Regions from separate parts of the Homo sapiens genome. Here region 2 is linked to region 1. Evidence: fine-mapped expression QTL. A gene starts in region 1. The other region holds a variant in brackets. All regions are shown on one strand. Distances are between the middles of the regions.

The links.
Region 2: its variant is fine-mapped to the expression of SLK in cerebellum (GTEx, PIP 0.93).

Annotation. Positions count from the first base shown.
Region 1 is chr10:103,960,031-103,976,383 of GRCh38, forward strand. It overlaps SLK (STE20 like kinase), which reads left to right and starts at 7,110. Exons shown (of 19, transcript NM_014720.4): 1 at 7,110-7,865. The coding sequence starts at 7,716. LOC102724351 (a long non-coding RNA gene) reads right to left here and starts at 7,015. Exons shown (of 5, transcript XR_007062282.1): 1 at 5,751-7,015. It also overlaps the pseudogene RN7SL524P. RefSeq lists silencers at 6,972-7,431, 7,472-7,521, 7,532-7,631 and enhancers at 10,981-11,482, 11,483-11,982.
Region 2 is chr10:103,865,060-103,881,412 of GRCh38, forward strand. STN1 (STN1 subunit of CST complex) reads right to left here. Exons shown (of 10, transcript NM_024928.5): 10 at 12,510-16,353. Among named protein-coding and RNA genes, the nearest start is that of SH3PXD2A, 18 kb to the left of the region's middle. The variant C/T (reference allele first, on the strand shown) is at 10,720.

The DNA.
Region 1 (16,353 bases):
GTGTCGGTTGCCAGATGATGCTGTGGTTGGGTTACTCTCATTTAGTCAGTGTCTGAGTGAAACACATTTAATATTGACCATTCAAATACTTAAAGTTCAAAAGATGTTAGGGAGTCTAGATTTTTAAACTGGAATTGGAGTACCACTTGTAAAAGAAGGATGTCTATCTAGTTTTTATTTTCTAATTTCCCAAGATTTGGATGCATTAAGCCTTCTCATCGCACTGCCAAATGTTTATGATTCATTTTAGCAGAAGTTACTAGGGATGAGGAGAAGGTGGGAGTATGTGTGTGTAACAGTTCTGTATGACGCAGAAAGAGAAATGAATTAGAAGGGAGGATATTTTTCGATTCCTTTTATGAAATAAAAAAGAGCTTAAATCAGGTGACTTGTTTACTTTTTCTTGTTTTCAAAATAGAAAAAAGAGAGACCCAAAACCTGATTTGGAATTTTCTGAATGACACACAATTCTATTTCAGGAGAATAATTGTCATAATCACAGGTTAGTTACCTTCTTAAAATATCTAAAAAATTCCTTTCTAAAAATATAACTCCACAGGGACAGAAAACTGTATTTACGTCACAGAATACTTGTATATCAAAGGAATTTGCTACTTCCATCTAATCTACACAATAGCATTTAAAGAACTAACTAGTAAATTTATTGTCTAAATAAGGAAGGGGAAAGGAATTGACATGTAATTTCTTTCACTAGGTGTAAAGTTTTATCATTTTCATTTATTCATTCAACAATAATGTATGGAATAGGAAGACACTGGGCTAGATGTAGGAGGTACAAGGATGAGCATGACTGTCCCTGCCCTCTAAATGCTTTCCGTCTAGGAGAAACATACACAGCCTCCCATACATATGCAGATATATACACGCTCACATACAAACACATTCACACATACCCATACACACATATTCGTACACATACACACGTTCACACAATATGTACATGCATGCTCACACATGCATACACCCTCAGTACTATACACTCACACATATACACACATATGTATTAACATATGAACACATATATACATATATATCCACATATACACACTCACATGCATACATACATACATACGTGGGAGCTGAGCTGACAAAGTGGAGACAGTGAGTAGAATGTTTTCAATTTAGAGGAAGGAGAAAGACATAGCATTGGCAACGATCCTGTGAGACGACTATGGCAAAATCTCAAGGAGGCTAAGTAGACCGTCTTAGTGGAGTTGTTAAATACTGGAGAGTTAGGTTTTCCGAGATCTGGATTCAAGTGAAAATCTGCCATTACTACCCGTGAGGCCATAACCAAGTTACATAACTCACTGCCTTAGTTTCCTCTCTTTTACATAGGGATTATCATAGTACCTATTTCATGAGGTTGCCATGAGGTTTAAATGAGATGATGCATGTAAACCACTAAGCACAATGTACTAAATTTCCATTTATTTATTTATTTATTTAGAGATAGGGTCTCTGTGTTGTCCAAGCTGGAGTGCAGTGGTGCTATCATAGCCCGCTGCAGCCTCAAACTCCTGGCCTCAAGCTCCCGAGTAGCTGGTGCATAACATCACACCCAGCTAATTTTATTTTTGTAGAGACGAGGTCTTGCCATATTGCCCAGGCTGGTCTTAAACTCCCGGCCTCAAACGATCCTCCTGCCTAGGCCACCCAAAGTGCTTGGATTACAGGTATGAGCCACCGTGCCCAGCCTAAATTTCCAGTTTGTGATGATATCCTTATTATTACCAGAGAAGATTATTTACCAGGTAAATTGTGAAGATAGTATTCCTCTCACCAAGCTGCTTAGTGAGAAAATATTAAACTATTTTTAAGGTGGGTAGAGCCAAAAATTATGTATTAAATGAATTTATTTGCATACCAAAGTATAATCCAAAAAAATTTTTTAAAAAATGAATACATGATCGCTGCTTCATCTTTACTTTTAAAGTTCTAAAAATTCAGGAAAGCCAAATTATCATTTATAAATAACACAAACATCTACATGTCATGGCCTTCACTGGGAATATCTGATCTGACTAAATGACATCACACCCAGTGTTACTAAGTAATTTCTGTGGCTATAACTTCATGGTGAAAATATATAAGCTATTATTAACTCTGTGATCATTTCATCAAAGTATGTTAGACTTGCTCATGTCATTTATAGAATACTGACAAACATTATTTGATATTATTCGTTGATATGATTAGGCAATTCATAAAATAAGAAATAAAAGTGGCCAATATACAAATGGAAAAGTATTACATCATTAATAATCAGATAATTCTAAATTAAGATAAGTTATTTTGGGGCTATTAGCTTGGTAAAGATTAATGGATAGGCCAGGTGCGGTGGCTCATGCCTGTAATCCCAGCTCTTTGGGAGGCCGAGGTGGGCAGATCACTTGAGGTCAGGAGTTCGAGACCAGCCTGGCCAACATAGTGAAACCCTGTCTCTACTGAAAATACAAAAAATTAGCCAGTTGTGGTGGCAGGCGCCTGTAATCCAAGCTGCTTGGGAGGCTGAGGCAGGAGAATTGCTTGAACCCAGGAGGTGGAGGTTGCAGTGAGCCGAGATCATACCACTGCACTCCAGCCTGGGTGACAGAGCAAGACTCTGCCTCAAAAAAAAAAAAAAAAAAAAAAAGATGGATAATACCTTGTTGCTATTGAGGGTGTGGTGAAATTTGACACTCTCATATGTCAACATTTTTCTTTTTCTTTTTTTCTTTTTGAGACAGGGCCTTGCTCGGTCACCCAGGCTCATGTGCAGTGGCACGATCGTGTCTCACTGCAGCCTTGACCTCCTGGGCTCAAGTGATCCTCCCTCCCGTCTCAGTCTCTCATGTAGCTGGGACTACAGGTATGAGCCACCATGTTTGGCTAATTTTTTTATTTTTTGTAGAAATGAGGGTCTCACTATATTGCCCAGGCTGGTCTGGAACTCCTGGGCTCAAGCAAACCTGCTGGCTCAGTCTCCCAAAGCGCTGAGATTAGAGGCATGAGCCACCATGTTTGGCCACCAATCTTTTTAGAGGCCAGTTAGGCAATACAGAGCAAAAACATTTTTAATATGATCTTTGACTCATCAATTCCACTTCTTGAATTGTGTCTTCAGGGAATATAATCAGACAAATACACAAAGATGCTTGTATATGCACACTAACTGTGGAATTGTTTATGATGACAAAAAAATTGGAAACTACCTAGATGCCTGTCATGCCTGTCAATACAGAAATGCTTAAATAAATTATGGTATAGTTAGACACTAGAACTCTGTGCAGCTATTAAAAAAGGATTAGACAGATCTATTTGGGATGGCTTGGAAAGATGTCAACGATCTGTATTGGATGATGCCAGTTTTATATCTTAACAGATATACATGCGGCCAGGTGCAGTGGCTAACACCTGTAATCCCAGCACTTCGGGAGGCCGAGGTGGGCAGAATACTTGAGGTCAGGAGTTTAGGGCCAGCCTGGCCAACATGGCAAAACCCTGTCTCTACTAAAAATACAAAAAATTAGCCGGGCTTGGTGGTGTGCGCCTGTGATCCCAGCTACTCAAGAGGCTGAGGAGGAGAATTGCTTGAACCCAGGTGGTGGAGGTTGCAGTGAGCCGAGATCACACCACTGCACTCCAGCCTTGGCGACAGACGGAAACTTCATCTTAAAAAATATATATATATATATATTTATATATATATATATATACACACATACACATACATACACACAGAAAAAAACATATATAGGCCTAACTTTTTCAAAGTAGCTTTATTGAGGTATAATTTACAAAGCATATAATTCACCCATTCTAAGTGTAAAATCATCACCATAATCTAGTTATAAAACCCTTTTTTATTGTCCCCCAAAATTCTCTCATGCTCATGGGCTTAACTTTTTTTATTTGGCCATGTATTATGTTATTAAAAGGAAAAGCTTTTACAAGAGGCTCATTTCCATTTCTTTTTTTCATAATATATGAAAAAATTTATGATAATATTTCTATTTCTTTTTTTTTTTTTTTGAGACAGGGTCTAGCTCTGTCGCCCAGGTGAAGTGCAGTGGCACGATCTCAGGTCACTGCAACCTCCGCCTCCCAGGTTCAAGCGATTCTCCTGCCTCAGCCTCCCGAGTAGCTGGGATTACAGATGCATGACACCACACCCGGCTAATTTTTGTATTTTTGTTAGAGACGGGGTATTGCCATGTTGGCCATGCTCATCTCAAACTCCTGACCTGAGGTGATCCACCCACCTCAGCCTCTCAAATTGCTGGGATTACAGGTGTGAGCCCCCGTGCCCAGCCTATTTCTATTTCTTAATGGTGTCAGAACTTTATCTTTGCTTTGCTAGTGACTTTTTAAAAACCACTTATTGAATTATGATTGACATACAATAAGCTGCTCATACTTAATGTATATAACTAGATGAGCTGGGTGATAACTGTACATCACCACTGCCTATTACATAAACATATCCATCATCACAGGCTTAACTTTTAACAGTGGTTAGGTCGAGGGTAACTATGAGTAGGGGGGAAGGAAGGAGGACAGAACTATAGACAGCTTCCTAGTTTATAATTTCTGTATTATTTGAATTATTTACAACAAAAATATACTATCTTTCATTTTTATTTTTTCTTCGAGACAAGTTCTAGCTCTGTTGCCCAGGCTGACGTGCAGTGGCACAAACATGGCTCACTGCAGCCTCATCCTCTTGGGCCCAAGTGATCCTCCTGCCTCAGCCTCCCCAGTAGCTGAGACCACAGGTGAGTGCCACCATGCCCAGCTAATTTTTCTGTTTTTAATTTTTGGTAGATGTGATCTCGCCATGTTGCCCAGTCTGGTCTCAAATTCCTGGGCTCAAGAAATCCTCCCACCTCAGCCTGGGATTATAGGTGTGAGCCACCCCACCCAGCCAGTAATACACTATCTTTTAATTGACAAAATAGTAAAGTCTTTTCTATTTTGAAAAGAACAAAATAAGGAAACAGACATATACCCATTGACCGAAATCTACTTTTGGCAATTTATCCTAAGGAAATAATCAAATATGTGGAAAAAGATTTGTGTACAAAGATATTTATCCGTATTTTATTAAAAACAGAGGAATTATAATCTAAATATCTCATAATGGAAGAGAACAATTATTAATTGTATTGAAATATGCGAAGTGCAGGATGCAAACCTTTTTATGTAATACAACCTCAACCATGTTGAAAAAAGTTAATGCACAACCAAAAAAATCCTGTTTTGAAATATAAGTTCTTATCAATGGTTGTGTCTGGATAGTAGAATTATAGTACTTTTAATTTAATTTTATTTTTTAAGCATTTCATTTTCTCCATAAATGATAATAATTACAAATAATTATAGTATTGTTTTCACAGGTCTATACATTTGTCAAAACATATAAAAGTGCACACTTGCAGCAAACCACCATGGCACGTGTATACCTATGTAACAAACCTGCACGTTCTGCATGTGTATCCCAGAACTTAAAGTATAATTTTAAAAAAAAGCAAACAAGTACTAGCAAAAAAACCAAATGCACACTTTAAATATGTACAGTTTATTGTATATCAATATATTGCAATAACACTTAAAAAAATAGAAGGATCTCAAGGAATTGAATCATCTTAAGCGTCTTACTGGAAGGGGGGTTTTGCTATGCCATTTTGGGGCTGAAGGGCAAAATGACTGGGGGGGCAGACATTATATAAATAGCAATATATACATACATTGTCTCTGCTCCAGATACCGCCATTCATTCATTCATTCACCAGATCTGCCTTCCTATTATATGCCAGGAATGTTGCCGGGTACTTGGATATCTTGATGAACAACAAACCACTGGCCTGAAAGAGCTCCCGTCTGGTGGAGGAGGGGAAGGTAGGTCACCACCTGACGGATTCCAGCCAACGTCCACACTGCCCCACCAGGGAGTGCTGCCCAAGGGGGCTGGAGGCAGATCAGGAAGTGGGGGCCTTAGCTGAGGTGGAGTCACCAAGAGTGACACCAGGTTTACAGTTGTGGAGGTGGCCAGAAGTTAGTTTTACCCTCAAGGGAGTGTCGCAGTCATCAGTTGAGAAGTGGGGGCCCGGCGCGGTGGCTCACGCCAGTACTTTGGGAGGCCGAGGCGGGCGGATCACGAGGTCAGGAGATCGAGACCATCCTGGCTAACACGGTGAAACCCCGTCTCTACTAAAAATACAAAAAAATTAGCGGGGCGTGGTGGCGGGCGCCTGTAGTCCCAGCTACTCGGGAGGCTGAGGCAGGAGAATAGCGTGAAGCCGGGAGGCGGAGCTTGCGGTGAGCCTAGTTCGCGCCACTGCACTCCAGCCTGGGCGACAGATCGAGACTCCGTCTCAAAAAAAAAAAAAAAAAAAAAAAAAGAAAGAAAGAAAAAAAAGAGAAGTGGTCTTAAACAGTTTTTATGTATCTGTGTCTATCTTGCCTGCACACTTAAAACAACAAGAGTAAGAACTAAGATTGAGCGTTTACGGGTGCAGGGGCCGCGCAAAGGGCTTCCATCTATTGTCTCATTCACAACCTTCTGGTAGGGACTATTAGGATCTTCATTTTACGGCGAGGAAACCGAGGCTCGGAGAGGTCACCTGCCCAAGGTCACAGATCTCTCTCTCCAAAGCTCAAGCTCACAACCACCACACAAACTCCCCTCTCACTGTACCTGGGGCCCGTCTGAGAGCGAAAAAGTCCGCTTTCAGGTCCCAACCCTAACAGGTCCGGCTTTCACTCCACAGTTTTTCCCAGATCCAGAATGGAGACAACATCCGCTAGCACAATCAACAGGGTCGTCCCACGGGGGCCGCTCCATCAAGGCCGTGGACTGACAGGATTTGGGGCTTGGAGGGCAAATGAGAAACAATCGTCAGGGACCGAAGAACAAATGCGTCCATCACACCAGCCCCCCGCACCCCGAGCCCCGTGCTCCGCTCACGCGAACCCTCGGGGGCAGCCAGTCTGAGGGACGTAGCGCGCGTGCGCGGGGCCAGAGGGGACGCCCCCACGCGAGCGCGCGGTGAGCAGGGCGCGTGACCGGGCGGGCGCGCAGCCGGGAAAGCGCGCGGGCGCGCTACGGAGTCGGCGTCGGCGCGCGCTCCAGGCCGAGGCTGTGTGGGCTGGGGAGGGAGACAGGCGGCGGCGGCGGCGCCCCAGACCCGAGGGGACGCGCGGGCCTTGCGCCGCGGGAGCGGACGGCGGCGGAGGAGACCCTAGGCTCGCGGCCCGAGGCGGGAGGGCTCGGCTTCTCGACTGCCCGCCTCCGAGGCCGCCGGCCGCTTCTCTCTCCCAGAGTGGCCGCCGCCCCTGGAGACTCGCCGTGACACGGGCCTAAGCCGCCGCCGCGGGAGTCCTGACCGCTCGGACCCGTCGGATCAGGCCGGGTGGGAGCGAGCTTGCGGGCAGGTGCCGCTCCCGGAGGGTGGGCCGGAGGCGAGGCGCCCACCGCGCGGCTCGCGGGCCGGGCTCGGCGGAGGGGCCGCTCGCGCAGCACCCCCACCGCGGGCCGGAGCCCGGGTCGCCGCCCCGCCTTCTCCCGGGACCGCCCGGCCGGAGCTGCGGGGGCCGAGGGACGCCGCGCCCGCCGCCGCCAGCCGGGCTCGCGCGGGAGAGCAGGGAAGAGAAACTTTGCCTTTTATTGTTTTTAGTCCTTAAGTGCAAGGAACTCTGTGTTGGGAGGAAAAATGTCCTTCTTCAATTTCCGTAAGATCTTCAAGTTGGGGAGCGAGAAGAAGAAGAAGCAGTACGAACACGTGAAGAGGGACCTGAACCCCGAAGACTTTTGGGAGATTATAGGAGAACTGGGCGACGGAGCCTTTGGGAAAGTGTACAAGGTAAGAGGGGGAAAACGGGAAGTTGTACTGCGAAGGTAAAACAGCCACTGGCCTGGAGTGGCGGGAGGACTTCTGCTCCCCTGGTCCTTATCCTGTCCTTCTTTTGACTGTTACGGTTCGATGCAACTTTACTTGGCTGATCATCCAAGGAGTAGCTAAGAAGTCGGGTTTACGGTGGAACAAAATGGGGCCTGGATGGAGTTTAAAGAGCGATTGGAAAAGGAGACAGGGTTATAAAGTCTACTCTTTCAAACTTCAAAGGAAATGAGAGTGTTCTTTAATTTATAGGAGGGGTCTGGTTGTGCCCTTCAAGTATTTTAGAATGAGAAACTCATTGCACTTTGCAGTGGATTTGTCTACTGACTGCATTCGCGTGCATGCTTGTACTCCAACAGTTCTGTTTTTAGGGTCCAGTATATATATTTGGTTGTATCTAGAGCTAATACAGAACTAGTTGGGATCAAAGTGATTGCTACTTGCAGTCTCTTCTTGAGTTAGTTGCTTGACAGCATACTATAAAATAGAATGGAATTTCTGACAAAATTTCCAAAAAACCTTCATGTGGTACTAGTTTTAAATATATTTATGGTAAGCATTGACTAGAAGTCAGTATCAGCGCTTAAGCAGTTAAAAACACACACGCATGTATTTATTTCAATAGAAAGAGGCTTGGCGTTTCAACCTGAAGGCATTAATGTTAACTATTTAATATCTCCTAAGGAACATATGAATGATGTCATTGGAGTATTTTCATCCTGAAGGGCGAATTTTTTATGAGACAGCGTTTAGGGGAAGGACCCACAGGGTTGCCTAGAAGTGAAAACGTAAGAAAATAACTTATGTTTATACAGGACTTTGAAGTTTTTAAGTACTTTCAAATAATTTGGCCCCCACAAAAATCTTGTGAGGTAGGCAGGTCAGTATTAGTATCCACATTTCACAGATGAAGATATTGAAATTGTTCACAGTCACATGAGTCTCAGCCTAGACTTGAACTCAGGTCTTCTGAGCCCATATTTAGTATTGTTTTTTATTTTAACAGTCACTGGTAGAAATGAGAGCATTTTGCCTACTACTTTCTTTTTTTTTTGAGACGGAGTTTCGCCCCTTTTGCCCAGGCTGGAGTGCAATAGCGCGATCTCGGCTCACTGCAACCTCCCCCTCCCGGGTTCAAGCGATTCTCCTGCCTCAGCCTCCCGTAGTAGCTGGGTTTACAGGCATACGCCACCATGCCCGGCTAATTTTGTATTTTTAGTAGAGACAGGGTTTCTCCATGTTGGTCAGGCTGGTCTTGAACTCCCGACCTCAGGTGATCCGCCCGCCTCGGCCTCCCAAAGTGCTAGGATTACAGGCGTGAGCCACCGTCCCCGGCTGCCTACTACTTTCTAAGCACCATTACACTTCTGCCTCTGCCCTGCCTCAAATGCATCTTGTCAAAACCCCAGTCCTCATTCTTTATCCAGGCTAAAATATCTACTCCTCTCTGTGTGCTTTCAGAACACGTTGTTCACATGGCTATTATAGCACTTGTCACTTATTACAATTAATATGTTTATGTTTCTATAATAAAATTAAGGGCCAAAATTATGATACATATTTGGGTTCATTCACTGCCTTAGCGTATAGTGATGTGTCTGTTTATTTGTTGAAATGAAAGAATGTGTTTTGTCTGCATATGAATGCTGTCGTGGAAGCTATCATAGGCTGTGGAAGTTGGCAAAATAAGCTTTGTTATTTGTGTGGAGGGTAGAGTATGGGCTTCAGCAAGAGCTTCATAAGATGCAAGGCTTCATTGTAGTGGGAAGATCACTCCTGGGAATCAAGAGTTGTGTTTTAGTGCTGGCTGTCACAAACCAGCGTTGTAATCCTGGACAAAACACTTAACTTCTCTGGACCTCCGTTTTCTTAGCCATAATATTAACTTTCTTAGGAGTTTAGATTCTTTCACCCATTAAAGTTCTGTGAGTATGTAATTAGCCTGGAAAGGCAAAAATAAATGCTCAAGGCACCTAGAATCTTGTAGTTAGAAGGTGGTAGGTGATTATGGGCAGTTTTCATGGTGTAAATAAGTTTTATCGAATATAAACAGCTTAGTAGTAAGAGCACTGGCTCTGGAGTTGGAATATAACTTAGCTCTCTCACTCAATAGCAGCATATGACCTTGAGCAAGTTTCTTATTTGTCCTGTGCCTAACTTTGCTCATCCATAAGACATCCTCAGTGTGAGGATTGAAAAAGATAATATAAGGCACATGGAAAGGGCTCAGTAAATGGTAGAAATTACTGTTATTACATTTAGAGCTCATAGATGCAAACTTTGGGATGAGATAGGGAAAGGAACCAAGAAGATAATAAACCATTTTGTTGGTTTCTAATGGCATGGGCAGACTGTGTGGAGATACTAAAGCCCTGTGTTATTCTTTCATGACACTTTCTGCAAAATGTGATCTATCTTCCTGTACTGAGACATTAATTGAAAAATTTCTGAAGAACAAGAGTCTTATTTCATGTAGTTATTTGAGCACTATAAAATTGTGTCAAGGAGAATTTCTGTGATCTTGATGACTGTATTTTAGTATGATATTTGAAGAGCACGGGCTGGCACTATTTTTTCTTTTTTCATTTCACTACTCTCTGCTTCTAAGGAGTAGGGTATGAGTTTTTTAAAAAATAAAATTTGAAATTAAAACTTATCTGTCTTCTTATGGCCTCTTTTTTCTAAAAGTTTTTGTTTTTCAAGATTCCATAGAAATTGAGGATTTATAAACTTCCTTATATTTGGAAGAAAAAGCTATGGAACCTTAACATAGTACGTAGTAGTATGTAGTAGAAAACTGTTTATAAACTTGATTCTAACTATCATTTGCTTACAGAAATTAGTAACTGTTACAAAGATTATATTGTAAATAGAGATGAGGTTGAGTATCCCATTTCCCAAATGCTTGGGACCAGAAGTGTTTTGGATTTTGGAATTTTTTGGATTTTGGAATATTTGCATTATACTTAGTTATTGAACATCTGAAATTGAAAATGCTCTAGTGATCATTTCCTTTGAACATCATGTCATGTTAGCACTCAGAAAGTTTCAGATTTTGGAGCATTTCAGATTAGATTTTCAGATTTGGGATGTGTAACCTATAGGTAATCATGTTGTGTATTTAGTCTGAGTCATTCTTCCATCGTGTACTTGTTGTATTCCTTCCACTCAGTCCAGCACTGTACACATTTAACAGTTACTTCCTTGCCTGAAAAAGCTTCACTACTTTAAATTTATTTTCTCTTTTAAAAATAGTATTATTTGACATATAAATGAAGATATGTAATATCCTTCACAATATTTTATCTTTGGGTTTCTCTTTTTTTGTTGTTGTTGTTTTGTTTGTGTTTTGTTTTGTTTTGAGATGGAGTCCCTCTCTGTCGCCCAGGCTGCAGTGCTGTGGCGCAATCTCGGCTCACTGCAACCTCCGCCTCCCAGGTTCAAGCAATTCTCCTGCCTCAGCCTCCGGAGTAGTTGGGATTACAGGCACGCACCACCGTGCCGGGCTAATTTTTTGTATTTTTAGTAGAGACGGGGTTTCACCATGTTTGCCAGGGTGGTCTTTCCTGACCTCAGGTGATCCGCCTGCCTTGGCCTCCCAAAGTGTTGGGATTAGAGGCATGAGCCACTGCCCCTCACCCCCTGCTGGATTTCTCTTGTTTTTAACAGAAAAAAAAGAATGACATAAGATTATGAATTGAATTGCATTTCTAGAAAGCTATTTTATCTATTAAACCAGTTGAAACTAAACTCTTGGCTGTGTGCTGGATGAAAGTAGTTTTTATATGACAACTGATGGCTGTGTGCCTTTTAAAAAATAGTAAAATATATAATCTTTGTATTAAAAAGTATGGAAACATATACATTTAGCAGATAATAAAGTGAATTATTATTAACAACTGTCAGTGTCAAGGAATTCTGCTAACATCCGAGAATCCCTCTTGCCTCCTTTCTGTATCTAATATCTTCTCTCTCCCTAAAGGAAACCACTATCCTATCTTTAAGTTATTCATTTATTTGCTTTTCTTAATCATTTACTATCTAGGATTATATCCCTAAATGTTATAAATTTAGTTTTGTATGCACTTGAACTTTATATGAATGGAATCATATTGAACATATTCTTTTGTGTCTTGCCTCTTTCAAAGTCAGTATTGTGTTTGTGAGGTTCATCTTTATCACATAGAGCTGTAGTTCTTTTTCGTTGTAGCATTGTATTCTATTATATGATGATATCACCAATTATTTACTATTGTACAATTAATGGATATATTGGTTGCTTCCAGTTTTTGGCTCTTACACAAAACGGTAGTTGCACATATACATGAGTTTCACTAAGAGTTAATCCAGGAATGGAATTGCTAGGTTATAGGGTAGTGTATCTTTAATTTTACCAGATGATGCCAAACTAATTATACAAGTTTACATTCCCACCAGCAGTTGAAGAATTTCCTTGCCCTGCCAGGCGCGGTGGCTCATGCCTGTATTCCCAGCACTTTGGGAGGCCGAGGCGGGCGGATCACGAAGTCAGGAGATCGAGACCATCCTGGCTAACACGGTGAAACCCCGTCTCTACTAAAAATACAAAAAATTAGCCGGGCGTGGTGGCAGGAGCCTGTAGTCCCAGCTACTCGGGAGGCTGAGGCAGGAGAATGGCGTGAACCCGGGAGGAGGAGCTTGCAGTGAGCCGGGATCGCACCACTGCACTCCAGCCTGGGCGAAAGAGCAAGACTCCGTCTCAAAAAAAAAAAAAAATTTCCTTGCTCTGCATCTTTGCTAACATTTAATATTGTCAGAATTTTAAAGTTTTGACAGGCTGATAATGTGTTACATTTCTCATTGTGCATTTAATTCACCTTTCACAGATTACTAAAAGTAATTCTTTTAATATGTTTTTGGTAATTTGAATTTCTTCTTTTGTGTTCAAGTCTCTTATCCATTTTTCTCTTGAAGTCTTTGTTTGTATGTTGATTGTGTGTGTGTACAATATATGTGTTTTGAATTTTAACCATTTGCTGGTGATAGTTATTGCTAATATAGTCTCATTCTGAGACCTGTCTTTTCATTCTCACTGTAGTGTCTTTTTATGAATTCTTTAACATGGTCCAATTTGTTAGTTTTTTCCTTTACAGTTGATGCTTTTTGTGTTATGTTTAAGACATTTCTTCCTAATGTGTGATCATGAAGATAATCTTCTATATTATCTTCTAAAAGCTTTATGATTTTGCTTTTCTTTAACAATTAGATCTATAATCTACCTAGAATAGATGTTTGTAAATGGTATGAGGTAGGGGTCCAGTTTCATTTTTTTCCCCATATGGATACACAATTGTCCCAGAACTATTTGCTGGGAAGAAAAATAATTCCCCACTGCTCTGCAGTGCCCTGTTATGTAGCATGTGTCTGTTTCTGCATTCTCCGTTCTCTTCATTGATCTATTTGTCTATTCCTATACCAGTATCCCACTGTCTTAATTAGGAAAGAATTAAAATAAATTTCTGCTGCTTCTTCAACATAGTTTAGTAGTATTGTTGGCCCTTAGGGCTTCTATGTACATTTTCCAGTTAGCCTGGTTGAGTGCCACAAAAAATCTGTGTTTTTTTGGAGAGATTTCATTGAATTTATAAATCAGTTTTGGAAAAATTAACCTCTCTTTGATATTGAGTCTTCCCACCTGTGCATGTTTTATCTCTGTTTAGGTCTTTTTTACTATCTTAATAATGAGTTACAGTTTTTTTCCCTAGAAGTGGGAACACAAACTACTTCAAGGATGTTTTAAATACTTTGTTTTTCCTGTTAGAATTTCCTCCTTGTTTTTGTTGTGTACAACCTTTAGTAGCCTTCTGAGAAAGGATCCATGGAAAACATATTTTTTAAGAACTTGCCTGTCTAAATATGTCTTTATTATAAGGTCACAACTTAATATATATAATTCTAGTTCAAAAGTAAGTTTTTAAAGAATTTTTAAGATTTAGAATTTGTTAGTTTTGAAGACTTTCTTCCATTCATTATCTTTTGGCTGCAAGAGTTGCTGTTGAATGTCTGATGCCATTTGGCTTCCTGGATCCTTTGCCATCTTTTTCTCTTAATAGCCTTTAGGATTTTCTTTTATCCTCTGTTCGTGGTGATGTACTTTGATATAGGTCTTTTCTTCTTCTTTCGTTTTGCTGTGCTCTTGGTTGGTCCTTTCAATCCAAAGACTTATGTCCTTCAGTTCTGTGACATTTTCTTGTATTATTTATTTGACAGCCTCCACCCACCACTTCCCCCAATAATGACTCTTGCCATGGTCTTAAGATTCTTCATGTCCCTAAATTCAGGGGACACTTACCATCTTACTTGACCTGTCATTACCATTTGAGATACTTGGCCATTCTTTCCTTTAAAAAGTTCATCTTGGCCGGGCGCGGTGGCTCACGCTTGTAATCCCAGCACTTTGGGAGGCCGAGGCGGGTGGATCACGAGGTCAGGAGATCGAGACCATCCTGGCTAACACGGTGAAACCCCGTCTCTACTAAAAATACAAAAAAAAAATTAGCCGGGCGTGATGGCGGGCGCCTGTAGTCCCAGCTACTCGGGAGGCTGAGGCAGGAGAATGGCGTGAACCCGGGAGGCGGAGCTTGCAGTGAGCCGAGATTGCGCCACTGCACTCCCGCCTGGGCCACAGAGCGAGACTCCGTCTCAAAAAAAAAAAAAAAAAAAAAAAAAAGTTCATCTTTTGGCCTTTTTTTTTTTTTGAGATGGAGTCTCGCTCTGTCGCCCAGGCTGGAGTGCAGTGGCGCGATCTCGGCTCACTGCAAGCTCTGCCTCCCGGGTTCACGCCATTCTCCTGCCTCAGCCTCCCGAGTAGGTGGGACTACAGGTGCCTGCTACCACGCCCGGCTAATTTTTTCTATTTTTTTTTTTTTTTTTTTTTTTTAGTAGAGACAGGGTTTCACCATGTTGGCCAGGATGGTCGCGATCTCTTGACCTCATGATCCACCCGCCTCGGCCTCCCAAAGTGCTGGGATTACAGGTGTGAGCCATCTCACCTGGCCCGTCTTTTGGCTTTTAAGTCACCATACTCTTGATTTTCCTTCCACCTCTGTGTCTGTTCGTCACACTCCTTTGCTGGTTCTTCCTCTTTCTGACTTTAAGGTGTGGGAATTCCACAGGGCTTGGGTATAGGCCACCTTCTCCTTTTCTTAAGAGAACCGGTCTTCTCCCATGGCTTCAATTACCATCTAAGTGCAATTTCTATCTTTACCCTAAGACCTCCCTTTTGAACTCCAGATCCACACATCCAACTGTCTATTAGAGATTTCTGCTTGGATGTCTCACAGATACCTTAAACTGCAAGTCCAAAACATGAACTAATTCAGCTCATGATGTCAGTCACAAATTTGCTCCTTCTGTCTTCCCACTCAGTAATTACCACTTCCATCTACCAGTTGCATAGGCCAGAGACCTAGAGGTCATTTTTAACACCTGTTGCTGCCTTCCCCGCCAAACCTAATTAAACACCAAGGCCTGTTAATTCTACCTACTAAATATTTCTCAAAAATACTTCTTTCTTTCTTCACTGTCATTTCACTAGTCAAAGCTGCTATCATCTCTTAGACTACTGCAGTCTTATTGGTATGTTTTTGGGCTTCATATAATCATTTACATGATTCTTTTAATCCTGTAATCATTTAATATATTCCTTTGTGTTGGGCTTCTTTTGCCAAACATTATATGAATGAGTTTCATCCATGTTGTTGCATGTAGTAGTAATTTGATCTTTTTCTTTGCTTTATGGTATTTTATGAAATATTATAGTTTATCCATTCTGTAGTATTTGGATTGTTTTCACTTTTTGTATGTTAAAAATATGATTCACGGCCCGGTGCAGGGGCTCACGCCTGTAATCCCAGCACTTTGGGATGCCAAGGTGGGAGGGTCACTTGAGCCCAGGAGTTCAAGACCAGCCTGGGCAACATAGGGAGACCCCATCTTTATTTGTTTTATTATTATTATTTTTTCTTGAGACAGAGTCTCACCTCTGTCATCCAGGCCGGAGTGCAGTGGCGCGATCAACTCCCCAGGCTCAGGTGATCCTCCCACCCCAGCCTCCCAAGTAGCTGGGACTGTAGGCACCTGCTACCATGCCCAGCTAATTTTTATATTTTTTGTAGAGACGGGATTTTGCCATGTTGCCCAGGCTGGTCTCAAATTCTTAGGCTCAAGTGATCTGCCCACCTCGGCCTCCCAAATTGCTAAGATTACAGGTGTGAGCCACCATGTCCAGCCTTAAATTTTTTAAATTAAAAACCAAAAAATACGATTCATGAATATTCTTGTGCCTTTTGGTGCACATGTGCCATTATTTCTGTTGGATATATACCGGGAAGGAATTTTCTAGGTCATAGGTTATACATATCTTCCAAAGCGGTTGTACCAATTTACACTCCCATCAGTAGGGTATGGGAGT
Region 2 (16,353 bases), 95 kb before region 1:
GCCACTCTGTCCCTCCCCACTGTTTCATTAGGTATTCTCTCTTATACCTTACCACCTTGGCATAAGCTGGAGTAAGATCTTTATCATTTATAACCAAAGACTACTACAGGTGTTTAACTCCAGGGCAGAAGGTTGGAATGGGAGTGAGGATGTGAAGCAGGAGATTCACTTTTCAGATAGTATGTTTTTCAGTTCTAGGATTTCCATATAGTTTTTTACAGTTTCCTGATCTCTTCTAAATTTCCCATCTCTTTACCCAGTATATGCATCTTTTCCAAAGACTCTTTAACACATTTATCAAAGGTATTTTAAAGCCCTTCTCTGCCAGTCTGACATCAGAGTTGTCTGTGAGTCTGTTTCTATTGACTAGTATATCTCTTGATTATGGGTCACATTTCTCTCTTTCTTCACATATCTAATAATTTTTATATAGTGAACATTGTAAATGGTATATTGTAGAGACTGGATTCTGTTATCTTCCTCTGGGATTCTAATATACACTAAAGTTCAAGAATGGCTGCCCTTAGGGGAAAGTCATACAAGTGTGGACCTCACCCGGAGTGTCTTCCTTCTTTCAAGGAACAAGTCCCCTTCCTTTAGTCTGGTCGTCATCCAGTGGCATCAAACAGGTTTTTATTTTCACCTTGTCCAGAGTTTGTAATTATGATCTGTAGGAGGGGTTAGCCTTCTACAAATCACTCTACTCTGTTAGACCAAAATTTGGATATTCACATTTTAGTTCAAATACTATATTAAATATGGTTTGATGTTGTTTGCATTCTTTGTCATTTAAAAATAAATTTAAAATGTTTTTAGTTGTACTGGGCATGGTGGCACACATCTGTAGTCCCTGGCTACTTGGGAGGTTGGGGTAGGAGGATTGCTTGAGCCCCAGAGTTCAAGGCTATAGTGTGCTATGTTAGTGCTTGTGAATAGCCGCTGCATTCCAGCCTGGGCAACACAGCAAGACACATATATTTAATTGCTATTTGAATAAAATGTTTGTGAAATCCTGGAAGCACCTTACAGGTTTATGAGACACAGCTTGAAAATCTCTAGTATAAACCATATGATTGACCATTATGGGTATGGATTAGGTTCAACCAGGCATAGGATTATCTCTATGGCAACTGTCGCCATAGCATCAAGCCTACGAGAGAGGTGGAAAATGGGCTTGTGAAGAGTGAAGAGGAATGCAGGGTAATATCTTCCTGGTCCCCATTCCAGGAAATCCAAGAGACTTGCTTTGCACCTTAAAAGAGGAAATCTACAGATGGTGATTAGGTAAAAATGAGCTTTTTGCTAAAAGCAGCCACATTTCCAGCATTCCAACCTATTTTCAGAAGGAGGCTCCTCTTAGCTCCTATGGGCTGATTCATATCCACTTGGTTCATCAATCCTTACCTGTTAACCTGCTCACATGCCCCAAAGTGCAGAGGGTCCCTGCTCCTCAACGAGAAGCAGGGACTCCCACTCAGGAGGGAATTGGCCTCAAGTTTCCCAGTATTTCCAGCCTCTAAGACCTATGGACTGGAGAGAAAGTTCATCTAACTAAATCATTGCAGCCTCTCCTTTTTCTCCTCCCCATTCCTAGTCGGACCCACTAGTGTTTTATTTACCAGGGAGCAGACCTGGACCAAGCTTCTCCAACTTTTTGTTTGTTTGTTTGTTTTTTGAGACAGGGTCTTCCTCTTTCACCTAGGCTGGAGTGCCGTGGTACGATCTCGGCGCACTGTAGCCTCGGCTTCCTGGGCTCAAGTGATTATCCTGCCTCAGTCTCCTGAGTAGCTGGGACCACAGGCATGCACCACTACACACAGCTAATTTTCTTTTTTCTTTTAGAAATGGGGTCTCACTATGTTGCCCAGGCTGGTCTTGAACTTCTGGGATCAAGCAATCCTTCTGTCTTGGGCTCCCAAAGTACTGGGATTCCAGGCATAAGCCACAGTGCCTGGCCCTTCTCCAACTTTAATGTGCACACAAGTCCCTTGGGGGTCTTGTTAAAATATAAATCCTGATTTAGTAGGTGTCATGGGCCAAACTGTGTCTACCCCTCACTTTTTTTTTTTTTTTTTGAGACAGGATCTGGCTCTGTTGCCCAGGCTGGAGTGCAGTGGCAGGATCTCGGCTCGCTGCAACCTCCACCTCCTGGGCTCAAGTAATTCTGCCACCTCAGCCTCCTGAGTAGCCGGGACCATAGATGCACACCACCACGCCCAGTTAATTTTTCGTATTTTTGTAAAGATGGGGTTTTGCCATGTTGCCCAGGCTGGTCTTGACCTCCTGAGCTCAAGCAATCTGCCCACCTTGGCCTCCCAAAGTGCTGGGATTTCATACGTGAGCCACCGTGCCTGGTCATACCCCTCAAAATTCGTATGTTGAAATCATAATCCCCCTATCTCAGAATGTGAATGTATTTGGAGACAGGGTCTTTAAAGAGGTAATTAAGGTTAAATGAGGTCATAAGAGTAGGTCCTAATCCAATAGGACTGGTGTGCTTATAAGAAGAGGAGATGAGGCCGGGCGTGGTGGCTCACGGCTGTAATCCCAGCACTTTGGGAGGCCGAGGCAGGTGGATCACCTGAGGTCAGGAGTTCAAGACCAGCCTGGCCAACATGACGAAACCCTGTCTCTACTAAAAGTACAAAAATTAGCCAGGTGTGGTGGCGGGTGCCTGTAATCCCAGCTACTCAGGAGGCTGAGGCAGGAGAATCGCTTGAATCCAGGAGGCAGAGGTTACAGTGAGCTGAGATCATGCCACTGCGCTTCAGCCTGAGTGACAAGAGTGAGACTCCGTCTCAAAAAAAAAAAAAAAAAAAAGAGGAGCTGAGGACAGATGCAGAGGGAAGACCATGTGAAGACATACGGAGAAGGCAGCCATCCACAAGCCCAGGAGAGAGGCCTCAGAAGAAACAAACCCTGCTGACACCTTGATCTTGGACTTCTGGCCTCCAGAACTGTGAGAAAATACCTTTCTGTTGTATAAGCCGTCCACTGTGTGATACTTAGTTATGGCAGCCCTAGCAAACTCATACATGTGGGTGGGAAGGCACTGAGCTTTCTGCATTTCTAACAAGCTCCTGGATGCTGCTGATTCGAGGACCACACTTTGAGTAGCATGGACCTAGAGAATCTGATTCCTTTTTATTTTATGACATTGTCAGCAGCTTCCTAAGTCATTAGCAGGTGGGGAGGAGGACACTTTTTCTCAAACTCTGCCTTCCTAAAGATAGCTAAGGTAATTGTTCTCTACATTTTTTGTGGCACTTTTGAAATTTTACAAATAGAGTGGCACCTTTCAGTTTCTGTAAGTGAATGCAGTGGGCTGGATATACCCACACGGCATGGCAGGCATAGTATGCAAATTGAGGCACTCATGCTGTGTCTACAGTGGGCAGTTGCCACTCTGTCCCCATGCTAGAATGTGGGCTTAATGTGGTCATATTTTCCAAAACTTCAAGAGCCAGAAATTTGAATTTTTATATTAAATCTCTAGATTTTAAAACTTTCAAATGTTGGCACCTCCATCTGCTTATTTTTGAAATAATGTGAAGCAAAGGAGCTCTCTGAGGTGGTGCTGGACATGTTCAATATTTGGACCTCTACCTTGTTTTAGGTGTATACACATGTAAAAATTCATCATCCAGGTATAGCATAAGCAAACATTCATCAAACTGTATCATTAAAATTTGTACGACTTACCACTTGTAAGTTATGCCACAATAAAAAAGAAAAAAAATCTGCATGGGAATGATACACATGACAGTTATTACCTCTGGGGGCAGAGGCAGGAAAGGAACAGGGTTGGCCTTATGTGTATTTCTAACATATTTCTTCAAAGAGATAGAGGGCTGAAGCATATAGGGGGATTTCTTTCTTTCTTTCTTTTTTGAGACAGGGTCTTGCTCTGTTGCACAGGCTGGAGTGCAGTGGCACAGTCATAGCTCACTACAGCCTTGACCTCCCAGGCTCAAGCGATCCTCCCACTTCAGCCTCCCAAGTAGCTGGGACTACAGGAGCATGCCACCACGCCGCCTGGCTAATTTTTTAAATTTTTAGTAGAGACGAGATATCACTATGTTGCCCAGGCTGGTCTTGAACTCCTGGGCTCCAGCAATCCTCCTGCTTTGGCCTCCCAAAGTGCTGAGATTACAGGTGTGAGCTACCTCGCCCAGTCAGGAGAAAATATTAACAGCTGTTTCATCTCAGTGATACTAGGTATCTGCTTTATTGTTTTCTGTGTGTTTGAAATATTTCATAATTAAAATCAACTATTTTTTAACATTAAAAAAATAAAGCCTGGAAAGACCAACACTGCATGAACCAAATAAAACTCCTCAGAGGCTACTGCACCATTCTCTTGGTCTCCCTGTGGGACTGCACAGTTGTTTATGTACGAATGCTTACTGCCCTGACCCAGGGCTCCTGTATCTTCAGTAAATACCTGCTCCCTCTTTGTCACGGGTGTGATGTGATGTCACCCCACCCACTCAGCCCAGCACCCTCATATGCCATTCATCACCAGAAGTGTGTCCTCGGTGCAGCCTCAACTGTGGGAAAAATAACGTTTATATATCAACCCAAATTTGAAGACACTCTGTATTGGGTTCATAGTTTAAAGCTACCAGAGAACAGACTTCTCTGATCCTGAAAGCAATTAAAGCCTAGTGGTTGAACTCACTGGGTAGAAGCCTGGGTTTTCCAGTTTACTAAATATATGCCCCTGGGAAAGTTAGTTTCTCAGCTTCTATTTCTTCACCTGTAAATTGGGAATGACGACAGTATCTACCTAGTTGGGCTTACGGGTAGATTTAAATTTGCTGAGTTATTGGTGCATAACTGTTCATTAGTTATTATTAAGTAATTAATACTGGGTTGATTTTACTTTAACTATCTTTCTTACATCATAGATTGTCTGAGGCCACACCAGTATGAAATCAACAGCTGGCCACCAAGTCTCAAAGGGAAGATATTTTCGGCTGGGTGTGGTGGCTCATGCCTATAATCCCAGCACTTTGGGAGGCTGAGGTGGGCAGATCACTTGAGGTCAGGAGTTTGAGACCAGCTTGGCCAACATGGTGAAACCCCATTTCCACAAAAACTAGCTGGACATGGTGGTGTGCTCCTGTAGTCCTAGCTACTTAGAAGGGTGAGGCAGGAGAATCGCTTGAACCCAGCAGCCAGGAGGCGGAGGTTGCAGTGAGCCGATATCATGCCACCGCACTCCAGCCAGCCTGAGGGATGCACAGCAAGACTCTCAAACAGAAAAAAAGGAAGATATTTTCAACTCTGATTCAAGTGGCAAATGTAATTAAACATTGTCAAGTGCGGGGCAGTACAAACTTCTTTCTGCCTTCAAGGAATGGATCTGTTTCTGTCCTTCATGAAAAACCCTAAACGGCCAAAGCAACCTTAAGAGAAAACAGAATTGCAGAATCTCCAGGTTGGTTCTTTTCCTCTGGCCTCAAACCTCAGGGGTAGAGCGTTGGCCTCTCCCCTTGGACAGCATGCTGCCAGGACAGCCTCCCTGCTGACATGCCTGCCTGGGCTGCTTTCTGGGGCTTCTTGCTCAAGGTAATCCTCCAGGAACAGCACCCTGCTGGCAGCTTTGCAACCCCAAAAGGGCTTTCGCAATGACTAATAAAGCCATAAAGGATGAACACAGATCCAAAAAAATTCATCCCCTGAAGGAATATGATTTCGACTACTTTTCACTTGGTGCTTCCTTGTCTTTTAAGCCACATGCATTCAATTTCTGTCTGAAATTCCAGTTCTCTCACGTTGCAGTCTCCGGAGGCCATTTTCTCTGGTAAACCCGTGAAACGCTCTCGGAGCCTGGAAAGGGGTAGAGGAGCCAATTACTCATGAAAGCCCATTTTCTCTGTGGGTTTTCCCTCACATTTCAGGAGATGTATTCCTTTAGCATTTCTGCTATCACCAGTTCAGACCCCCAGAAATCTCCTGAGCCCCCTTTTCCCCTCCCATTAATTTAAAAATCCTGTAGCCGTTACTGTGGTCTGCCTTGCAGAACCTGGCAGTTCACCTGGCCTTTTCCACTCTCCCCCAAATTGGTTACCTACCTGTTGGTTCTCTTACACTAATGTCCCTTGCCACTGTCCGGTTCAGGCCCTCCCCACCCCTCCCTGGATGACGGCAGCAGACGTGTCTCTCTGGTCTACCCGCCCCTGACTTCGCCCTCAAGCTGTGCTCCTCCACTCTGCTGCTAAGGTACTTTCTAAAATACAAACCTGATGCCCCCTCTCAGCTGAAAATCCTTTAATACTGACCTCCCCCAACCCGTTTCCAGATGAAATGTTCCCCAGTCCTGCTAGAGCTTCTGCATTGTCAAGAATAGCCAAATACCTGGATTTTTATGTGAATTCCCCAATCCTTTTTTATTTGTAAAGTTATTACATTTTACATTTAAAAAAATTATAAAACATTGCAACAAGTCTCTCACCCATTCCTGCTCCCCGATTCCCTATTTGAAGAGGCCATCACTGTGGCCGGGTTCTTCTGCAGTGCTGCCTTACACGCACACACACACACACCCTACAAACATACACATACACAAGCACACACTGCCTTTTTTTCCATATAGATGGTAGCCAATTTTTAAATGTTGGTATAAAGTTTTAAAACCCTGAGGGTCAAATAAAAACACTTTTGTTCCTCTGAGGGTCAAAGAAAACACAGGCATGTGCCTTATGATCCGCTGGGTTGTAGATCACACAGGCATGTGTCTTTTGATCCACTTGACTGACAGTTCCCTGAAGACAGGAAACTTTGTCCTGGAATCCTCTTCGGTACCTGGGACGATACCTTGCACACAGCTGGCACTCAATAAGCACACTGCCTGTTCATGGAAACTTTTCTTAAGCACCAGCACTGTGTCTAATGCTGAGTCTACCACAGACTACGGGGTGAACTGTGGTGTGCCCACCCAAGAGGGAACACTCAGGAGAGTTAGTTGTCTGGTTAAGTCTCAACTCCTGTGGAAACAACCAGAATCTGCCTGCTTCCCATATTTCCTGGTTACCTGGGTCAACAACAAATGGACAGAAATAGCAGATTACAGTCCCCGTTCTCAGTTCTCAGGCCCCCTAATGGGGCATCTGCTCGTGCTGACGGCCTAAGCTGTGGCAGAGTGCTGAGACCAGTACCTCCTCGCCAGCTGTCATTCCCAGGAGCGGAGCTTCTGGGTCTCGCCCTCCACCAGGACAAGTCAAGCCAGGACAGGACCAAAACCACAGGCACAGGCAGAGCTTGCTGACTCTTCCTGAGGCACTGGGCTGGGCAGGGCAGGGCTGGGCCAGCTGCTGCGATGAGTAAGGCATTCAAGCTTCTTCATGTTGGGAGAAGACTCATTGCTCAGGTGGTTTTGGAATCTCCTAGAATAGATTCTATTTGCTCACTCTCCTGAGTCCCCTGCTTGCTCCCACACAGCCTGGCAGGAACAGGGCCTGTGTTCACAGGTCGCTCTTCCCCTCTGGCAACAGGTGTCATGGTTGTGGGACAAGGTGGCATTTTCATTCATGATGAGGTGGACCCCACTGAGGAATTGCAACAAGATCTTACATATCTCTCCTCCATCCTCGGAGGCAGTGATGTCCAATCCTGTGTCAGCAGTGATGCAGGACAGGTGGTTCCTGTCACAGCACACTCCCGAGGGAGGGCCATAGGCAATGTCCCTGTAACTGTACGGTGACGTCCTCCCCTTCTCCCTCACTCGAGAGCATTCTGGCAGGGAAGGGCATGGGGAGCACGACCTTAACGTTCACCTTGAATGTTATTCTAATTGTGGTGCAGTATGAATCTTACTACCAAAACGCAGGTGGGTGAGACTTGTCATAGTCCTTTTTTTCTTTCTCTTTATTTTTTTGAGACAGAGTCTTGCTCTGTCACCAGGCTGGAGTGCAGCAGCGCGATCGCAGCTCACTGCAACCTCCGCCTCCTTGGGTTCAAGCGATTCTCCTGCCTCAGCCTCCCAAGTAGCTGGGACTACAGGCGGGTGCCACCATGCCCAGCTAATTTTTGTATTTTTAGTAGAGATGGGGTTTCACCGTGTTGGCCAGGATGGACTCGATCTCTTGACTTCGTGATCCGCCCGCCTTGGCCTTCCAAAGTGCTGGGATTACAGGCATGAGCCACCATGCCTGGTCCCTTTTTTTCTTTATTTCAAGTTACCTCAGCCTTGATGCCCTCAACCTCGAGCCTGGCATGAAAATTAGATGTGTGGTAACAGGATGGGGCAGGCTTCCCTTCCCTGGAAATATGTGAAAATCCAGGAGGTTACAGGGTACCTGAAAAACAGGGACAGGTCCACTCTTCTTCTGAGACCAAGACCGCTGTGGAAATCCCCGGGGCTCCAGCCTGCATGCACCTTCAGGGAAGGGCTTGTGGCCGCTTCCTTTCCAAGCTGACACACAGGAATCTTGCTGAAGCTGAGAATCCTAGGCTAAGGCTCTGACCTTCTGAGAGACACCACAAAACCTCTCCACAGAAGTCCTGCCATGAGACTGTCACAGGGAGCACATTCCCATCCGCGATGCCTGGGGGCCACCAATCTCCAATCCTTCCCCAGGCTTCGGGCTTCCAGAAAACATAAAGCAGATTGTCAGGCCAGGCGCAGTGGCTCAGGCCTATAATCCCAGCACTTTGAGAGGCCGAGGTGGGCGGATCACCTGAGGTCAGGAGTTCAAGACCAGCCTGGCCAACATGGCAAAACCCCGTCTCTACTAAAAATACAAAAATTAGGCGAGCATGGTGGCACACGCCTGTAATCCCAGCTACTTGAAAGGCTGAGGCAGGAGAATCGCTTGAACCCAGGAGTTCAAGCAATGAGCCGAGATTGCGCCACTGCACTTCAGCCTGGGTGACAGAGCGAGACTCTTGTCTCAAACAAAACCAAAAAAAAAACCAGAGAGTCTGCGCAAACAACTTCTGAATTCAGCCCCCAAGCCAAACCTCCCTGAGGCAAGGCTAGCTTCCAGCTTGGAAAGAAGAAATAAAATACAGGAAAAACAAAACCCACATCAATAGCTCAATATATTATTCTGCCACCTAACTCATATTAGAATAATCATTCACAATTTCAGTACAGGGTAACATTCAGCCCTTGTCACAAATGCCTGTGTCCCACATCAGAGCTCATGCACCCCGCTGCTGCTTTGCTCTAAAGCAGAGCTGAAGAACTGAAGGCTACTACTCTGTCCTCACCCTGCTTTATTTCCTTCAATCACAGATTGTCCTCAGAATAAAAAATAAATGCCTTCCTCCCCGAGGGAGCAATTTCTAGCCAAGAGGATGATCAAAAATGGTGTTGCCCAATGCCCCAATTAACTGTACCAAACCCAGTAAATGATGAAAGTGAAGCCTCAGCTTATGATGATAATTAAGCTATGTTGAGTCAATGGCAGCTGCTGTAAGACCACTTCTATTACTAAAACTACCTTCTCCACTTAATTAGCACTTTCTTAGAAGCATCCTTAGTTTTTCACATTAATCTGACTGGGGACAGTGTCACTGAACCAGAGCTAAATGGCATCTGGTCTATGAGAGGTCTGAGTCAATAATATGGTGGCTGGTTTTAAAAAGATTGCTGTCCTTTCTTTGCTTGATGACTTGTGATATAGAAAAAAGAAAAATAAATAAAACCATCATTGTTGTAACACATTATTATTTTTAATATTTGGGTGGGCATGTGACCAAGCACTTGGAGTGGCAGGTTTGGAATTTTGAGTTTTGAGTTCTTCCGGATGTTTATTCCAGCTGTGTATTAACTGGCACCTTGGCAGCTGCGCTCTGGGCTGGTTCCGCAGTAGATACCACTGCTAGAACACATGCCTGGCCGTCTGTAGCCCCTGCTGGAAGCAATGGCTACTGTCCAGGGTAGAACTTTATCTAAAGGCTCCCATGATGAACAGATGCTCAACACTACTCATACTAAAAAAACATAAATGCAAACAGAAACCAGAAATCATTTTCACCTATCAGATGGACATGGACTAAAAATACTGATAATACAAACTGTGGGTGAGCTCGTGGGTAAACAGTAGACGCATAAATCATTGATAGGAGTGTACGATGGATCAGTCTTTTTACTGGGTAATTTGTTAGTGCCTATGCAAATTTTAAAAAGCTCATGCCCCTTTTCCTGGCAGTTCCATTGCTAGAAATTTACCATACAAACATACTTTAAACATATACCAAGAAAAGAAAAATGTTTCCTGCAGAATTGGTTGCAATAGCAACAAATTGGAAACCAATTAAATGTTTTTTAATAGGGCCCTGGCTAAGTGCATTATGGAACAGCAATACGATGGAATTATGTCACCATTTTAAAAGATGCTGATTTTGCATGCTAAAGTGAAAAAGAAAAAAAGACTTCCAAAATATAGCATTAATAAAAATGTGAAGTGCATATAAAACGCTGACTTTTTTTTGGAAGGATACACAAAAATATTGTTAACATGGTTATTTTCCTAACAATATATATATAATCTTAAAAATATACACAGTAAGCTGGGCACAGTGGCTCACACCTGTAATCCCAGCACTTTGGGAGGCTGAGGCGGGCCGATCACCTGAGGTCGGGAGTTCGAGACCAGCCTGACCAACATAGAGAAACCCCATCTCTACTAAAAACACAAAATTAGCCGGGCATGGTGGCACATGCCTGAAATCCCAGCTACTCGGGAGGCCGAGGCAGGAGAATTG[C/T]TTGAAGCCGGGAGGTGGAGGTTGCGGTGAGGCGAGATCATGCCACTGCACTCCAGCCTGGGCAACAAGAGTAAAACTCCGTCTCTCTCTCTCTCTCTCTCTCTCTCTATATGTATGTATACATACATCACCTAAATATATATACACACACACACACACACACATATATACACACATACTTATATATATAGAGAGAGATATGTATATACACATATATATACACACATACATACACACGGTATTTGGGAAGTGGTAGACCATTCTTTCCCCTTCTTTGTACTTTTTTGGTATTTTTAAGACTAGCTCTTTAAATAATGATGCTGTATTTATATAAAAGCTGAAAGATATCTGTGAGAGACTGTATTTTCCAATGTGGCCAGGGTAATATTCCCGGACCTATATGCCCTTCTGGAACCTCATTACTCCCCATCAAGAGGTGGAGTTTATTCCTCTCCTCTCGAACCTGCATGGGACTGTGATAGCCTCAACAATTAGAAGGCCATGGAAGTGAGGCTGTGGCTTCTGGGGCTACAGAAAAAGGGCCATGTGGCTTCCGTGTGGCTCTTGCTATCTTGCTATCTCTTGGAAAGCCTGCCCTGGAAACCCAGACACCATGATGTGAGGAATCCCAACCTAGCCCATAATTCTGAGTCTGTTCACAGAGTCGTGCACACATCACCACTATCTAATTCCAGAACACGTCCATTAACCCCAAAAGGAGCCCTGTACCACCCAATCCCCACCCTCCCCATGCCTGGCCACACCATCTACTTTTTTTTTTTGAGACAGAGTCTCGCTTTGTCACCCAGGCTGGAGTTCAGTAGCATGACCTTGGCTCACTGCAACCTCTGCCTCCCGGGTTCAAGCAATTCTCCCTGCCTCAGTCTCCCGAGTAGCTGGAATTACAGGTGCCCACCAGCACGCCTGGCTAACTTTTGTACTTTTTAGTTGATACAGGGTTTAGCCATGGCCAGGTTGGTCTTGAACTCCTGACCTCAGGTGATCTGCCCACCTTGGCCTTTGAAAGTGCTGGGATTACAGGCGTGAGCCACTGCACCCAGCCTCATCTACTTCTTCTCTGTGTATGTGCCTATTTTCTGGACATTTTATATAAATGGAATCATACAATATGTGGCCTTTTGTGTCTAGCTTCTTGCACTTAATTTCTTCAAGGTTCACCATGCTTTAGCATATATCAGTACTTCATTGAGTAATATTGCATTGTATGGATAGCCCACCTTTTGTTTATCCATTAATTGGCTGATGGACATTTGGGTTGTTGCTACTTTTTGGTTATTAGGAATAATGCTGCTGTGAACATTTGCTTACAAGTGTTTGTGTGGCCATGTTTTCAATTCTCTTGCGTTGAAGTACTTTTACATCACCTAAATATTAAATGATAAATACATAATAATCAAATGATACTAATAACTGGTACACAATTAATTCTTATTAAAGCAAATTCCCTAAGAGCAGAAACCTGTTCCTTCGTGGTATTTCAGGTTTAATAAAGACCATTGGGTAGACCTGAAGTAATACAACAGCACTATTTCCAACCCAGATTTTTCACCAATTCACACTGACATTTTCTCAAATCAGTCTGAAAAGAGATTGTCTGTTTATTATCTCTATGCAAAAACCCAGGGCTATGCTGTGGTCTTCAAAATCCCTCTTTATGTTCCAAAATGAAAACTTATCATTTAAATTTGACATATAGGAAAGGACTAGAGCCTTTTCAGGAATTTGGAGTTTGATTAGAATTCTGGGGAACACAGAACCTTTTGCTGTACTGTGATTTACCTATTCAGGTTTATTTAATAAATACAGTAGAGGTTAACAGATGATAGTGCAAGTTCAATAGAAGTAGGGTGATTTAAAAACATTCTGGATTACAATGAAAACTCACTTATGTGGGAGTTTGAGCTCACATTTACAGCCTCCACCAGCAGAAATCATGCAAATAAGAACCACTGCAGAGTTCTTTGTCCACAGACACCATCTCCCTTCAGGATGGTCCTGCTTTTCCCCCAGCACCTGTGCAGGCATCTCTGGCGAGCCTTATCACAGTCTTTCTGAGTTTGCCTGTATGCTTCACATAAATGTAGTAAAAAAACAATGAGACGCTTCTTTGGGGCAACTGCTGTAGAGGCCACTAATGAGAAAGTGTAGATGTTTCCATCATGGAAAATTACAAGTTTACTTGGTTTCAGTCCTTGGCACTAAGTCTTAGGTTCCTTGTCACTGAACAGCCTTCTTTCCACTTGGCTTCTCTTGGCCAGCATCCTGGCACACCATCAGAGGAGAAAATAATGAGAAAGAAGTGTCTTACAGGGATGGGGAGCACTGGTGGCTTACCATATGGGCATAATCATGGCTCTTCAAACAAATCCTTGACCAGACAGTAGCACTATTTGTCTTCTTGCCTACACAAGCTACATGTGGGGTTCACACCTCCTGAAACATGTGCACACTAAGAGAACTGGAGAATGTTTGCTCAGTTTCCCTCCTTTTCAGGGGAACCCTCTGGCTGGTCTTCAGTACATGAGCAGTGACCCAGCTGTGGTTAGCTCCAGAGAGTTTTCTAAGAGTCCCTCATGTTCTTAGAGTTCTGATGTTGCTTAGAAGACAGAGGCCTACCTCATTCTTGGTTTACTCATGCTTCAGGTTACATGAATGTGGGGTGGGGAGTGGGAAATAGCTTTATAATTTTTGTAGAAATTATATAAGGAGTCAGGAGTTTGAGACTGCCCGGGCCGAGTCTGGCTTACACACCGGTTGAATTCTTGTCCAGCGCCCAAGAAGAATGAGAATGTACTGACAGTGGAAGAGTGAGCACTTGCTAATTATAAAAATGCCAAAGGATAGCTATGTGGGGTAAAAAGCACCTGAGATCTCACCATGCAGAGGTAACATGTGCATCCCTTTGGTGAGAATTTCTAGTAATCTGTCTGATGTGTATAATTATTCATCCAGCATTTCCCAAATATATTTGTGAACATAGTGTTAGTTTGTGTTCATCCAGGAGCCAATCCTGAGACAGAGACCGGAAAGCAAGAAATGCATCTGGGAGGTCAGCATGTGGTAAAGGGGAGCGGGGAAGTAAGGCAGGGAGGGTGAGGCTGGTGGTTATCAGGTTAGCTGCTCCTGTGGGTGGCTGGGTGGTGCTCAGTCCCACGGAGGAACTGTGGAAAAGAGTATGGAACGTGTGCCTCAGCAATGCTTACCTGAGGGCGAGGGAGCTGGGGCATTTACAGCCAAGGTGCTGTTGGCTGAGGCTGCTCCCTGGGGGTGTGACTTCTGAGCACTTCCAGCCTGCACAGCCTACTAAGACATGTGAGAAAGCACCCCCGCAACCACTGCCCCTAGGAAAGAGGCAGACACTGGCAGCCGGAAGGCAGCCAGACACATACTTATTGGTCGTATTGCTTAGGAGATGCGTCAGGCACTGTTCTAGGTGCTGGGGACATGGAAGGAAACAAAACAGAGAATTCTGCCATCATGGAACATTCTGTCTATTGGGGGAAAATAATAAACAGGGCAAGTAAGAAACCATGGAGTGTGTTAGGCAGTATCAAGTACTGTGAAGAAAAACGAAGTAGGAAAGGGAGTTCTGGGAAGGGGGACAGGAGATGGGTTGCAAACAGCGAAAGAGGAATGAGGGCAGGCCTCACTGAGAAGGTGACACTCAAGTAAAGGCTGGAAAGAGGGCAGAGGGAGGCACTTCACATGGTTACCTGGGAAGAGGAAATAGCAGGAGCACCAGCCCTAAGGCAGGAATATGCCGAGGCATGTGTGCAAGGCCCGTGCGGCTGGGCTGGGAGGGCAGGGTAAGCGGGGCCGTGCTGACCTCTGTGCAGCCTCAGGCTCCTACCTGGGGCAAGACCGAAGGCTGTAGGAGAGTGGGAGCATTAACAGGGTGGCAACAGCTGCTGTGCTGTGAACAGCCCAAGAGGGGCCAGGGCGGAAGCAGAGAGGACTGAGGAGGCCGGGGAGGAGGGTGAAGCAGTTAAGATTCTGGAGATATTCTGAAGGTAGAGCCAAAAGACTTGCAGACAGATTGGATGTGAGGTATGATAGAAAGAAAGAAGCCAATGGATTTGGTTTGAGCAACTGGATGGAGCTACCTCTTCCTGAATCAGGGACATTTTCCAAAGGAGTGGCACAGGATTTTTTTCTCGGTCACTTTGCAAGCCAGGGACCTCTGGCTGGTGACGGCCCACCTGGGCCTCGCTTGACCATGCTACCTGCTGCAGGAGACGGCCCGCCCACTTCACCCGCCTGGGCCAAGTATGGCTTCCACACTGGTTGAGTTCTTGCCCAGCACCAAAGAAGAATGAGAATGTGCTGACAGTGGAAGAGTGAGCAAAGCTGGGAGTTTTATTGAGTGATGAAACAGTTTTCAACAGAGAGGAGACGTGGGGGTGGTCCCCCTACCCAAAGGCAGGAAAGTCCCCTTAATATGGGGGAGTCTGGGTCTTTTTATGGGCTCAGAATGGGGGGAGGGGCAGGCTGTAGGTATTACTGGAAAAGGCAACATTCGATTGGTTAAGGCGTTATTCAGAAAGAACAATTGGGAAAGGGTGGGCAAACAGGAACAGAAGTTCCCACTCTGCGTGGTGGGTTTCATCCAGGACCAGCAATCTGGTCTTTTAGCCTTCAGGCTGATCTTTGCTTGAACGTGGGGTTTCATTTGGGACCCTCCCCTCTCTGCCTAGGCATTTGGCTGCCTCATGTCACTATCAGGAGCAAGCCTGGGGTCAGGAGTAATTGGGAGCCTGGCTTTGGGCCTGTGAAATCTGAGATGTCCATTAGAGACCTAAGTGGAGATGTCAGTAGCAAACTGAATATAGGGGTCTGCAGTTCAGGGAAGAGGCCCATTCTGGGTTTAAACTGAGGTGTTAGACAGCATGTAGATGGTATAATCCATGTGGCTGCTGGAGACACCCCAGTGAGCAAGCCAGATAGAAAAGAGGTCTGGGACTGAGTCCTCAGGGAGGCAGAGCACTGAACAAAGGAACCTGAGAAGGAGCAACCAGAGAGCTTGGTGTCCTGAAAGCCAAACGCGGAAAGTACTTCCAGGAGAAGGGAGTGGTCGACTGTGTGTGTGTATATATATATATATGTACATGTGCTACATTTATAAAGACCTCCATGCAGAAATATACACTCTCTCTACGGATATATACATACACACAGGGAGCTGTAGATAATGGTGTTATACTATAGAAACAGATCTATAACTCTATCTACTTCCCACTAAATCTACTAGGGACAGTGTGCCATGGCAACACTGTCTGTCTGCTTTCATCATTTTTTTCATAGCTGCATAGTATTTCATTGTGCCCAAGAACCGTAATTAACTTTTTCCCTATAGGTATTTTCCCCAATATAGAATTCTAGATTATACAGCAATGAACACCTTGTGCAACCATCCTTTCACACTTGTGTAGCCATCTCCTTGAGATAAACCCCTAAGAGCAGAGTTGCTATAGGCAAGGGTATGCCCTTTTTACCTTCTGATTCTGAACTCCTTCCTGGGCAGCCCCACTAATCAGATGCATTCAACGTGGAACAGCTGCTGACCTCAAGGAAGAACTGCCCAGGACATCATTCCAGGCAGACTCTATGCTAGGG